Linked DNA regions of Homo sapiens. The protein of the gene in region 1 purifies or fractionates together with the protein of each later gene. This does not show direct contact. Each region holds a gene or a part of one and is shown on either strand. Other genes may lie near its edges.

The links.
Region 2: the proteins of SLC41A3 (region 1) and RANGAP1 purify together in Homo sapiens (affinity purification with mass spectrometry; one large-scale study listed by BioGRID and IntAct). This does not show direct contact.

What each region holds. Positions count from the first base shown.
Region 1 is NC_000003.12:126,004,850-126,009,637, forward strand, and holds the end of SLC41A3 (solute carrier family 41 member 3), read right to left. Parts: intron 4,032-4,788; coding exon 3,883-4,031; intron 2,377-3,882; coding exon 2,167-2,376; 3' UTR 1,716-2,166; coding exon of another isoform or gene 1,558-1,715; 3' UTR 1,508-1,557; downstream 1-1,507. UniProt on the Homo sapiens protein: Na(+)/Mg(2+) ion exchanger that acts as a predominant Mg(2+) efflux system at the mitochondrial inner membrane.
Region 2 is NC_000022.11:41,248,188-41,251,687, reverse strand, and holds part of RANGAP1 (ran GTPase-activating protein 1), read left to right. Parts: intron 1-578; coding exon 579-681; intron 682-1,870; coding exon 1,871-1,959; intron 1,960-2,236; coding exon 2,237-2,358; intron 2,359-3,500. UniProt on the Homo sapiens protein: GTPase activator for RAN. Converts cytoplasmic GTP-bound RAN to GDP-bound RAN, which is essential for RAN-mediated nuclear import and export. Mediates dissociation of cargo from nuclear export complexes containing XPO1, RAN and RANBP2 after nuclear export.

The DNA.
Region 1 (4,788 bases):
GTTGGACCTCATGCTCACTCGCTCACATACCCCTCATTACTCCATGCCTGGCTCACCCTTGGCAGGTGTGGGATCCCAGGCTGGTAGCGTGAGCTGAGCGCAGCCTGCCAGGCCGAGTGGACAGAACAAGCCCAGTGGGCCTGAGCAAAACTCAGGCAAAGGCACCACTGGCCACAGAGGTTTCTGGCTGGAAAAGCAACACCTCTAGGATCTTGTAACACGGTGTTGGTCAAACCTCTTTGGCACACACATCGCTTGGGTCTGAGCCCAAATGTCTGTTCAAATCAGTCCACCACTCACTAGCCATAGGGCTTTGGTAACGTTAAGAAGCCTCACAATGCTTCAGTCATCTACAAATGGGAGTGGTATGTACTGCATCACTTAATGTGAGGTTATCAGAGTTTACACGTCAAATGTTTAGGATACAACCAGACACACAGAAGATGCTTGATAGATCTTAGCTCTCATTACATGCTTCAGTAGCATCACATGCTTGTCTTTTGCAAGACTTATCAGAGCTGGACTTTCAATACTTGTGTGATGTTGACTATCTCTCCTAGTAGGGACTTGAACCAGGGATGATGAGTGATTTGCCCACAAGTGTGTCCCCAGTATCTAGCATGGAGCTTGGCATATAGTTGTGCTGAATATTCTCCAGTTGCCTCTCCAGATCTATCCCCAGCCTCCCCTGGCTCTGTGCCCCAGGAGGCTGAAACCTCTGTGGATCGTCAAGCGGCTCCCCAGTCATTGAACTTCTGGTTGGGTTTGGCCAATGGGAGACACTGGCAGGAGATAATAGGGTGGACAGAGAATGAGATTGGGATATTTATTTCCCTGGCTTTCTCTGCCAGGCCACAAGCTGATGTAGCTGTGTCTCTTTCTTAGAGATCCCCATGCATCTCAGGAAACCACAATCCCAACTATTCTCCAGGACAGGTGAATGTCTGGTAGTGCCTGGCCCCAGGATGCTTCACCCCTTCTTCTGGTCCCCATGCACCTATAAACTGTGCCTTCCTTAAAGTCTGCTCAATTATTCCAGTTAATGTACCATGTCTTTCCTTCTAGAACATTAAAACAAGAGGTTCTATATCAACATTTGTTGAATACATGAATAGATGTCTGTTTTACCACATGAAGATAATAATCTTCAAGTCCAAGCATGGCTACAGTTGTCCTGATGAGTTAATAAGAGACAGGAAATGATCATACATTTTTTAAAGATGATGTTCTCGAGTAGTAGTTCTCAAACGTGGGTGTGTATGAGAAACCTGGAGGGCTTGTGGAACCCATATAGCTGGCTCTACTCCCAAGAAATGCTGATTTGGCTAGTCAGGCCAGGGGGTGAGGGATAATAATTTGCACTTCTAACAAGTTTCCTGGTGACACTGACGTTTCTAGGCTGAAGGCCACTTTGAGAAACACTGCACTAGAGAAATGCCAGATGCTTTTGTTATTTATAGACCCCAAGCCTCAGGGTTGCATTAACTATCTTTAAAGACATAAAGGGTCAAGTACAATATAATCTGTTTTATTTTACACTTCTCTGATTATTGAAATCTAAATAGAGGTTTTTGCTAACAAACAAAAAGGAAAATAAAAAGACAGCAAGGACACGATTAAATGTTGAGTGCAGATGAAGGGTTGTATGAGGCCCCATCCTGGGGAGGCTGTACACCTTCTTGGCACAGCAGCAGTGTGGCCCACGGAGCTTGAACCTGGTGAAGACAGCAAGTAAGCCACAGCTCAAGAGTTCTGAGGCTTGGGAACAGAAAAGAGCTCCTTCCTGCTCCACCCCAATCTGGGTTGCATGGGCATGGAAAAGAGCAAACACACCCTGCAAAGCATACTGGACATGCCTCTTCTTTACCTTCTCAGGCCAGAACACCCTCCTCTCCACAAACGTGTGCACACTTGCACGCTCATTAAGCATGTGCACACATCATATTCACACACTCAAGCCATGCTCTTGATTTCAGGGCTCTATTGCAGGCTCAGGTATCAACCCCAGAGCCGAGGTGTGTGAGAGCTACCTTAGCAGACTCACAAAAGGCTACTGCAGAGGCAGGGGTCAACCATCCCAAGGACCTGGCAAGGGAGAAACTGAATTCTGTATCCCACTGATGTGAGAGGAAATTCTAATGAGCAAATGGGACCAGCGGGGCCCAGTTAGGGAGGTCCAGATGCCAGTTCTGAGATGCCACCCAGCTCTGCCTTGCTCTTCAGTAGCCAGTCAGTGAAAAAGCAGAGTGCCAGGAGGCCAGTACCGAGCAGGTCCCCCAGCCCTGTAAGGTAGGGGATGCAGTGGTTGTCAGGATCCAGGGCCTGGTGCCAAGTCAGCCGAACCATCACTTCTGCGAGGTACAGCAGGATTGTCACCTGTCAGAAGGGCAAAGAGACACAAAAGAAGACCAAGTCAGAAAGTCAAGTACAGGCAGGAAGCACTAGCTGAGGCTCAAGGAGAGATACCAAGGTGGACAGGTCAACCCCAGCCAGCCTCCTTCATCCAGCTTCTCTTGGGGTCTGAAGCCCAGCTCCGAGCTCAAGCAGTGGCTAGAGAGGTGACCCTCATCTGTACTTACCTAGCCTCCCTCTAGTGGGCCCAGCTTCTGGCACCCTGAAGGGCCAATCAGACCCACTGCCACTCACCAGCTGGGGCTCTCTCTGCTGCGATAGGCTCTACTCATGGGACTTTGCCGAGATGTCCATTTGGGTTTGCCTGAGCCCTTCTCCCCTGGAGGTTAGGACAGTCAGCCCTTCCTGAAGGTGCCATGGGGTAGTCCACACAAGCCTGCTCAGGTCTCATGGCTCCTCAATCCCTTGTCCAGGCTAACCCCAGCTCCTTCCTTCTCCCCAACTGGAGTCATAAGCTGCTGCTGCTCAGGACAACTTCTGGGATTTCCCTAATCCTACCCTTTAGGGTCAGGAACATACCACAATTACAAATGCCATAAACTCTGGGAGATGAGAAAGTGCCAGTACCAGCACCACACCCATAGAATTGCCCTCCAGCGCCCACGGTGCTCCCTGCAAAGGCCCCAGACCCACTGGGGACCATCAGCCCGCTGCAGTCTAGGCAGTGTGCTGAATACCTGCCCAACACAGGCACCAGCTTAATCTCCTTCACCATGCTTACTGCTGTCCAGCCCTGATCAATGTCTACGCATGCCTTGCAGCAGCAGACCCTGCAGGGGTCTGGCCCTGCCCACCCACCGTTGGGGAGGCAGTGGATAGCTGGACCACTCCTCAGCCTGTTCCGTGGGAACATGCTTCATCCTCAGGGCTGCTCCTCTTATCCTGTGATGATGAATGTGCTGCGCGCAGTGTGTGGCATGTTGTGTGCCGTGTCTAGCATGCAGTACATAATGTGACGAGTGATGTGCAAGATGACATGTGTAGTATGCAGTGCAGTACGTAGCGTAAGCTGTATAGCATGTAGCATGCAGCACACACTCTGTAGCATGCATGTGGCATGCACTGTGACATGCAGTGTGTAGTGTGTGTGGTGTGCACTGTGTGGTGTGGAGTGTGTGGTGTGAAGTGTGTGGTGTGGAGTGTGTGGGTTGCACTGTGTTGTGGAGTGTGTGGTGTGAAGTGTGTGGTGTGGAGTGTGTGGGGTACAGTGTGTGGTGTGGAGTTTGTGGTGTGGTGTGGAGTGTGTGGGATGCGCTGTGTGGTGTGGAGTGTGTGGCATGTAGCATGTGGTGTGCAGTGTGGAATGGCCTCTGTATTTGACAAGTTGACTCAACTCCTGGAAGATAAGGACTGTGCCCCACACGTCCAGCCACCCCCACCCGCCTCCCTCAGCCTCTCACTCAGACAAGAGATCAAGCCTGCTGGCTGACTACACAGCTGCGCACCTCTAATTGCTGCAGCCAGGCTTACCTGGATCAGGCCTGCCAGCAGGTAGAGCACCACAAAGGTCTGGCTGTTTATGACTGACTGACCCTCCACCAGGTAGATGATGTAGAAGAAAATCAGATGGCCTGGGACCACCAGCAAGAGCAGGACTCGAGCTGACATGGAATTGATTTCTGAAAGAAACAGAACCAAGAAGGTCATGTGACCTGAAGCGAGGCCACTTTGGCATGTGACAGTCCTCAGTGAGGCATCCACACTCACTCATCCATTTATTCCCAAGTGTTCACTGGACACCTACTCTGTGGCAAGCATATTCTGGCAGATGGGGATACAGTCTTTCCCCTTCCCTCGTGGAGCTGATATTTTAGAGAAGAGAAACAAGAATCAAGTAAGCAGAAATAAAAAGAAGCAAGAAAGGCTATTTCAAACTGTGACAAGTACTTTAAAGAAAATAAAGGTAAAAAGAAGGGCAAAAAGCAGGAAGTGTTTATCAGTGGGGATGAGCTCCTGCAGATGACATTTCAGCTGGGATTTGAATTTGGGGGAGAGGAGTTTGAGCAGAGAAAAGAGAACATACAAGGGGCTTAAGGAGGAAAAGAGCTTTGGGTATGGTGCTTCACTCAGTGCAGCGCTGGTGATCTGGGGAGGGCAGTCGGCTCAAAAGGGGACCTCGGGCAGCCCCTTCTTCATAGCAGCCTCTGTGGCCCTGTCAGCATACCTGCAATGTGCCAGTGAGCCCTGGGTTTCCTTTAGATTCCCATGCTCTGAGTTTGAGACTTTACAATAAGTGTGATTGACCCTGGCCCTACCACAAATACTTTTTAAAATTCTAACATGAATATGATTGATTTCTCAAAATGGAAATAGACTTCTAATGAAAAGTAGGTCTCCATTTGCCTCTGAGTTAATATATGTATTTCACCAAAATAA
Region 2 (3,500 bases), on another chromosome or scaffold:
CAAGTTCAATTACAAGATGGGGACCACTGGATCCCTGAAATGATTTTTTTTTTTTTTTTTCTGAGACAATGTTTTGCTTTGTGACTCCGGCTGGAGTGCAGTGGTGCAATCATGGCTCAGTGCAACCTCGACCTCCTGGGCTCAAGCAGTCCTCCTGCCTCAGCCTCCCAAGTAGCTGAGACTATAGGCACACACCACCAACCTTGGCTAATTTTTTTCCTTTTTGTTGACATGGGGTCTTGCTATGTTGCCTAGGCTGGTCTCAGACTTTTCGCCTCAAGCCATCCTCCCACCTCAGCCTCCCAAAGTGCTGGGGTTACAGGCATGAGCCGCCACACCCGGCTGGGATGATTTTTCATCCTTGTTCATTCACTCATTCATTCCCTCTCTATGCTGCATATGTGCTTGCTGCAGGCCAAATCCAAGCCAGACTCTGAAGGGACAGCATGGGGTAAGGCAGGACCTGTTCTTGCCCGCCAGGGGCCTTTGTACTGCCCAGGCCTCTCCTAGCTAGCGTCAGAGCCCAGGTACCTCTCCACCACGTGCCACAGGCCAACCATTGTCTCTTTTGTCCTCAGACTGACACGTCTGACCCCGAGAAGGTGGTCTCTGCCTTCCTAAAGGTGTCATCTGTGTTCAAGGACGAAGCTACTGTGAGGATGGCAGTGCAGGATGCAGTAGGTAATGTGGGCTGGGTGAGACCTGGGTGCCCTCTGTCCCTTGATGCTCGTGGGCCCCAGGTATCCTTCGTGGTTGCCGTAACTCGTCAGCCCCAGCGCTCTCATGGGAACTGCTCTTTGGCCACCTGAGTTTTTCCTCCGTCAGGGTCCTGCCGTGGAGCCAGCTGGCTGCTCTTCTCCCTGTTTTTCACCACTGAGAAACTGAGGCCTTTCCCAAATCCACACAGCCATGTACAGTTAGAACCCATAGCCCGCTCTAGGAAGTCCAGATAGTCACATCTGCAAGCCCAATGGACGCAGGTCTATCGGGAGGAGGGATGGTGAGAGCCAAGCCCTTGTCCACACCTTGGAGCTTCTGTGCTCACGTCCACTCTACCTGGAGGTTCCTTGCACAGAGGACACCTTTCCCCATAACATTATGGGGGCTTCCTTGGAGCACCAGCCCATATCCCTCCAGCCCTATCACAACCCTCTCCCCACCCTGTCTGTTTCCTCCATTCCAGCACCTGTCACCTTCCACCCTGTTTCCATGTGCTTGACTGAGCCTCCACATCTAACGAAACCTGAGCCAGTTCCGGTTAGGCAGAGGGGAGGAAGGGCCCTGAGGCGAGGGGGACGGTTCCTGGAAAAGATAGAAAGGGGTGGAAGGACATGTGGTGCCTCTTCCCGGCGTGGCGTCGAAGCGGGGAGGGCGGCTCAGTGGGAAATGAGGCTCGGAAGGAGGTGGGGGCCAGACACAAGCCTGCTCCCTGAGGGCCCGCCTGTGGGCATTTTTGGGAACAAGTTGCCCTAGTTCTGTTTCCCAGGAAGCCTAGCACAGTCCCTGCACATCCCCTCACCCTGCCAAAATAACCTGAATCCTCCCCAGTGGTAGCCTGCCTCAGGAAATCTCCATTCCCACGGTGTGAGGTGGGCACAGTGGGTGTCATCCCCATGCCCATTTTATACCTGAGGCCAGGATGGGCAAGGGCCAGAGTGTCACAGCTGGCAGATGGACTGAGCCCATCCCCTGATGCCAACTGCCACTCCCTCTGGTTCCTGTGTCTCTGCCGTCCCTCTCGTGTTCGCCTCTTCGTCAGGGCGAGGAGGCAGGCGAGCCTGTGTCTGCGCGGTGTTGGGGGAACCCTGGGTGCCTTGGCCCAGCCCTCTGCCATAGCCAGCAGCCTGCCCCTGCTGCTTCTGCCCTACAGATGCCCTGATGCAGAAGGCTTTCAACTCCTCGTCCTTCAACTCCAACACCTTCCTCACCAGGCTGCTCGTGCACATGGGTCTGCTCAAGGTGAGGCCGGAAGGAACAGCAGGCCCGGGAGGGAGGTGGGTGGGGTCTGCACAGAAGCTGCCCCAGCCATGCCCGCCAACCTCCCTCACCTCGAGTCCTGAGCCGGCTCGCCCACGGGGCCCCGAGGCCTGGGTCTGCCCCAGCAGCCTTGGTCTTCACGATGAGATTCCGGCTAGACTCAGTTGTGGGCACTATCAGCAGAGTCTGGATGGTGGAGTCCAGGGGCCCCCCCAGGTGACTTTGAAGCTCACCCCGCTTTTCGCTGTGTTCCTCTCAGAGTGAAGACAAGGTCAAGGCCATTGCCAACCTGTACGGCCCCCTGATGGCGCTGAACCACATGGTGCAGCAGGACTATTTCCCCAAGGCCCTTGCACCCCTGCTGCTGGCGTTCGTGACCAAGTGAGTGTGGCCTTGTCCTTCTGCCGGTGCCTGCCCTCTCGGGCTTCTCTGGCCAGGTCTGAAGGCGCCCGGTTCCGGGAGGCCCAGCCCCAGCCCAGCCAGCCTGCTGGCCCCACTCAGGTGCATGAGAGGCCCTCATGCCTCCTGGGCTCTCAGCATCTGCATTGGAGTCTCACCACCCTTGGGAGGCCCACTCCCCTCTGCCCAGCTGAGGACAGTGGGGCTCAGGGACAGTGAGAGAGGAGACATGCGGCGCCCCCATTGTGCAGATGAGGAGCACTGGGTTGGTTAAGGAGTTTCCCTTGGTCACACGCTAGCAAGAGGCTGGGCCAGTGTCCAGACCCATGTCTGCTGAGCGAGGTGCTGCGGTTGGTGACATCTCCGGAGTGGCTTTTTGTCCACATTCACAGCAGCGCAGGCCAAAGGGGCCTGGTCACACCAGGCTCTGCAGCCCCGGGCCCTCTCCTGGGGACACACATTGCCACGGGAGCTGCCAAATGCCCAGCAATGTGTGAACCTTGGCCTTGTTCTGGAGGGTCCTGGGGTGTCCCGGGGCATTGATGGGGTGATGGGCACAGTCAAGTAAGAGAGGCAAGGCCCCACCAGGGAGGGGTCGGGAGGCTTGCCCTCTGAAGGCCCTGTGTGGCCCCTGGCCAACCTGTGGCCTTCATCAGGCCTCAGTCTCCCCATTTGTCCAACCGGGGGGTTAGGTGAGATTGTCTCCAAGCGCCCTGACCAGCCACACTTCCAGTCAGTCGGCGCCATCCGGGGACATGGGGCAGGCAGAGGAGCAAGGAAGTCCCTTTGCTGGGGGAGCCCAGAGCCCACCAGCTGAGGCAGGATACTTGGTGCATGTGGGGAGGCGGGGCTGGCGGAGCGTGAGCGGCCCCCGCTGGCCTCCAGCACCCAGCTGGTGCCGCGGCAGCCCTGTCCACTCCAGTGTCTGCATGGCGCCGCCTCCTTAGCCAGGCCTTACCTTCTGGCCGCATTTCCCCCACACCAGACCACCCCTTGGGCTGCAGCTGGACTGGCCTTGGTGAATGGCAGATCTCACTGTTCCCCTCCTCTGCCAGGTGCTAGGTAGAGCCTCACTGTGAATCTCATGGCTGGCCACAGCCTCACCCCGACCCCACCCCACCCCA